Regions from separate parts of the Homo sapiens genome. Here region 2 is linked to region 1. Evidence: fine-mapped expression QTL. Tissue or cell type: nasal epithelium. Region 1 holds a variant in brackets; the other region holds the start of a gene. All regions are shown on one strand. Distances are from middle to middle.

The links. PIP is the estimated chance that this variant, and not a neighbour inherited with it, causes the effect. A credible set is the group of variants that fine-mapping cannot tell apart.
Region 2: it holds the start of LINC01018, and the variant in region 1 is the best candidate, but not a certain one, in a credible set for the expression of LINC01018 in nasal epithelium (TOPMed, PIP 0.84).

What each region holds. Positions count from the first base shown.
Region 1 is chr5:6,300,926-6,303,686 of GRCh38, forward strand. No RefSeq gene overlaps it. Among named protein-coding and RNA genes, the nearest start is that of LINC02145, 35 kb to the right of the region's middle. The variant C/T (reference allele first, on the strand shown) is at 1,392.
Region 2 is chr5:6,580,583-6,583,082 of GRCh38, forward strand. LINC01018 (long intergenic non-protein coding RNA 1018) reads left to right here and starts at 1,554. Exons shown (of 5, transcript NR_024423.2): 1 at 1,554-1,684; 2 at 1,838-2,019.

The sequences.
Region 1 (2,761 bases):
GCTGTGCCAGTGCGAAGTGGCAGATCCTGAGCAAGAAAAGTACCCATATGTCCCTAAATAAATGTGTGTTCATCTGCGTTTGTTCAATGCCCTCATGCCTGACCCGGGGAGCCCAGCCTCAGTGTACTCCCAACAGAAGCACCTGCAGATGTGACAAGGAATCATGCAGAGTGACAGTCAGGGAGGCATCATTGCAAGAGCTAAAGCCATGTCAACCATCTAGATGTTGTGCATCTATTCCACTAACAATAAAAAGACGAGCCAATTGTTCTGCATTCACGCGTGGAATACTAAACAGCAAAGAAAATTAGAGAACTGGGGCTACGTGCAAAAATGCAAGCGAGTGTCACACCCATGAGGCGAACAAAGAAGCCAGGCATCACATAAAACACTCATCAATTCCATTTACGAAAATCTACTATCGGGTTTAGTGATGGTACCTACCAGGTATCACTTAAGAAAATCCAAGAAGGGGTTATCATAAGAGTCAGGATGTTTGTGGCTTGTAAGGAAGGAGAGTGGAGAGGGCAGTAATGGGGAGAAGGCACAAGGGAGGGCTTTCACGGCGCTGGAAATGTTCTCTTTCTGAATTTGATAAGCAGTTACAGGTTGTTTCATTGCTGTGTTTCACAGTATAATAGGTTACAGTTAACGTTTATGCTTGTGAAGTTTTCTGTATGTGTAGTATTAGACTTCAGAAAAATATTGTTTAAGTGAATTGGTGTATGCAAAAAAGAAAGGAGGGAGAGCAACGTTAGACAATTTAATCATTCATTCAGCAAATATTTATTGGCACTATGGGTAAAGTTGCCCTGAAAACAATGGTCCAGGCCGGGCACAGTGGCTCACACCTGAAATCCCAACACTTTGGGAGGCCAACATAGACAGATCACGAGGTCAGGAGATCAAGACCATCCTGGCTAACACAGTGAAATCATGTCTCTACTAAAAACACAAAAAATTAGCCAGGCCTGGTGGTGGGTGCTGTAATCCCAGCTACTCAGGAGGCTGAGGCAGAGAATTGCTTGAACCCTGGAGGCAGAGGTTACTGTGAGCCAAGATTGTGTCACTGCACTCTAGCCTGGGTGACAGAGCAAGACTCCATCTCAAAAAAAAGAAAGCAAGAACAACAACAATGGTCAGAAACAAGTTCAGTATCTAAGGCCCCTCTCTGTCCTACAAAGCCATCTCAGCCCAGAAGTTGTTCATCTTTAAATAGTCCCCTCACTTCCTCTCTGTGGGGGTCCGTCCCGCAGACCCAGCTGCACAACAGATGAATAATGTACTCAGACACTGATATTCAGTGAAAGAGTGGGCTAGGGGGCCAGGCCGCTGACTGAAAGAGTTGTAGCAGCTGTGGCCCTGACTCGCTGGCCCTGCTGGCATTTATT[C/T]AGCACACATTAAATGACAAAAGCTTTGAGTCAACACCACTAGAGTGTAATTAACCTGGTCACCCTCCTCCTGAGAGAGCCACCCTGCCCACAAATGATCAAGGGTTAGTTTTAGGACCACATGAGTAAACAAATTATTTAGATAAACTCCCTTACATTCATTTGTATCTACTTTAAGCTATTTACTTAAGGTAAGAGGATTAGGCTGCTTTCAGCCAGATCTATTACTGAAGTTATGCAACCCCCACAGCCTTCTAAGAAGGTTTGTGTCTATTTCTTATAACTATCTTTAACATTTTTCCCACCAGCCTGCCTGAACTCCCACACCTCTATGCTTGTGATCAGAAATACTGCAAAGAGTAAGAGATGTGAGTCCACACCTTGCAATCTGGATCCTGCTCTTCCCAAGAGCCGGTCAGAATCACGGCTCTCTTCTAACGATAACCCCGAAGAGAAAAGCTAGGGCTGGATCACAGTCATCCACCAGCATCCCTTATTAAATACTCTTCAAATTATTCTCATCTCACTTTTCGAGGGCAGGAGGAGCTTGGAGGTATGCAACTGCCCCCCCCAGAACTGACCTTGGTGCTGAACTTCTTAGAGGAAGAAGAGTGAATTCAGACTCACCAGATCTTCCAAATCTCCCTTTTTCTTAGAAATCTATCTGCTTTGAGTGGCTTTTCTACCATTTGAATTTTGAACTTATTACTTTAGCAGGTGAACATGGGAAAGAAATTTAAAATGCAAATATAAGGAACTCTTTCTCATATTTCCAGTGGGACAAAACACCACACATTAATAAAGTTATCCTTCTAAATCAAATTATGATGGATGGGTTATTTTCTTTCTAATGGACCAAACTTCTTGATAATCCCAAATAGATACCAAGAGCCAGGCTCACATGAATGTTTACTCTATAATCCCCATGATCCTATTACATTCAGGAGACAGAAAGGCTGGTTGGTACCTAACTCAATACACAGGATGTGTGTAGCTGGAATTTATGAACCAGCATCCCGGCAGAGGTGATCAGTCTGGCCGCTGTCAGAGAAGCAGACGTGATGAATTCAAATATTTTAGAATGCCACAGGCTGGCAAGCCACATACATCCTGCTGAGCGAGCTCAGAGGTGAACAACTACCTTCTGATTCTCACAGTGAAACATCACGTACAGTACTTCAGCTCAGAAAACTCCAAATAACTAGAAAACTTACTATAAACAAATTGTACTGAAATCTTAGTAGACTGTGGTATTAGTGATTTTTTTCTTGTAATTCTCAGTATCTTTCTTGATTTCTCTATATCTTTTTACTGCATTTGGAGAACACTTTCAAAGTCCCCTTGTAGCTAATTTAATACCTATGAATTCC
Region 2 (2,500 bases), 280 kb after region 1:
TATATGAAGGTACCTGGTCAATACAGCTATGGGAGAAAGCTCATGGTTCAACTTTGCACCCTCTAATGAAATGGGGCATATATCAACATGTTTATTGGCCATTAGTGTATATATATATATATAGATAGATAGATATTTTTACCTCTTTCTCTGTTGATCTTTTTCTGTTTGATTTGGAGGCACTCTTTGTTTATTAAAGAATAAATTAGTCCCTTGATTTGGGATGCCTTTCCTTTTGTTTGTTTGTTTGGTGTTTTTTTTTTTTTTTTGTCATGACTATTTTATGGGTCTTTTTTCATTCAGAAGATTTTTGTGTGGTTGATTTTATTGTTTTTTTAATGTATCTGGGTTTGGGTTCAAAATTTTAAAAGCCTTCCTCACTCCAAGACTGCAAGTCTGCTGACTTGAAATCCCCACACTTCCCCCTCTCACACACACAATGTATAAAATTTAACTCTATTGCAGTTAAACTGCTAAATACTGTCAGCCAAAATTAAGGCTATTGAGGCAGAAATAATTTGAGAAAGGTTTACTGGAAGCCAAATGTGAGGATTGTTCCAGGGTCAGAATAGTTCTATGAGAAAGTTTAGGAGCAGGGAGGGGAGGGCACTCCTTACATTGGAGTTGTCCTTTCCATTGGAGGGTACCAGGGTGTCCCAAAGAGGTTACAATCATTAGCTTCAGATTACAACACAAACACATGCTAAAGCATTCTATCTGCAAGACAACTGGCAAAACTTCATGATTCAGAGACAAATCAGGGCCTGGTGCACTGGTTCATGCTTGTAATCCCAGAGTTTTTCGAGGCTGAGGTGGGGGATCCCTTGAGGCCAGAAGTTTGAGGTTACAGTGAGCTATGATGGTGCCACTGCATTCCAACCTGGGCCACAGCTCAAAGCCCCATTTCCAAAAAATAAATAAGTAAAACAGAAATAAATCAGTGTCTTTTTTCACATTGATCTGTATGTTGACAGTTGGAGAAGGGTACGAGAAGATCTGAGGGATTCACGAGAAGACCCTTTACTCAGGGGACAGGATGCAAACCATGCATCATGAAACCTTCCCCAAGCAGGTAACTCGGAAGGCTGCCAAGTGGGACCTGTAGGCTCTCAGCACCTAGCCGTGGAATGACAGATCCAAGCTGGAAGGGATACGGACAATCCATAGGTCCCACCCGCCTCTTTCAGCAGTGAGAGAATTGAGACACCGTCGGGTGTCTCCTGAGGTCACCCAGCTAACTGGCCCCAAGAAGCACAGGCCCCAGGAAGCCCACCCTTTGTCTCCCCCAGATTCTGACCAACCCCCACATCATCTCCTTGCCTGGTTTCTCTGGGGAACCAGGAAAAGAGCTGAAGAGTAGCTTCTGCTTTATAATGTTCACATTCCATTTCTAGTTGAAATTCAGTTGATTTTTAAATAATGCATCGCCTTAGATTGTGGGTTTTGGCAGGAATTTCAAGATACAGATAAAATTCCAGAGAGTAAAAAAGAGAAACACGTTTACTGCCAATTCCTTTTGAGGGGAATAGAAAAACATATTTTTGAATAAGCTCATCCTGGGTTCAGCTTCCCCTGTGAGAAGGACACATATAACAATAAGAAATTAAGGGTTCGGGAAGGAGAGGGGCCACCCTGTGCTCACCCCCACACAGCCCTGCAGGAAAACCCAGTGAACGGTGCCCAGGTGCCTGGCTGACTCCTGGGCCGGGAGGGGACATGGAGGGACAGTGGCCATCAGGCTCTTTGTGGACACTGGGGATTAACTACTGCTCGTTCTCAGCTCACTGGTGTCCAGCCCATCAATAACCTCATCAATAACCTAACTTTGGTCAATTAGGTTGGAGTCCGAAGGTGACTGATTTGCGGCAAGGTTTTCTCTCTTCCTCTGTAAAGTGGAGTCCTTCATCATTCATCGCAAGTAGACAACTCGCTTCCTAATGCCTCTGCATTAAGGAGCCAGGCGCTGCAGCTCTTTGGTACGTGACCTCAAATAGATTCATGCGTCCTTCTGCTGACACGGTGAGTACCTCCTGGAGTCCAGGACTCAGAGCATGGACACACCCTAACTCCAGCTAGGGGAGGGCGAAGCCACCTGCACCTGGGAGGCTGGCGCTGCCTAAGCGGGTCAGGCAAGTCCTCGCCTTGGAGGGGAGAGTCCTTAGTGATTTTCCCTGGCTCTGCTCCCACCGACGAGACGGACTCAGGAGGGGCGAACGGTATGTGGGGCGGGGACGCTTTGTTCAGATGGCGTCATCAACCCCAGGTCCGTCTGGTCTTTTTTATTCACTGCATATTAAGGTGCGTGCGGCCTGTGGCTGGTCCCTGTCCTGCACACCTGTATGGCCTGGACTAGGCCTGAGCGCCTCAAGGGCCGAGCTGGGTCCTCCCCACCCGCCGGATTCCCCAGCGCCCAGGCTGTCTCCAAAGAATCCCCCCGAGAGCAGGTCCCCGCTTCTCGGGCGTCGGGGCTCGCCGCAGTCACGCTGCACACCCTCCCGGC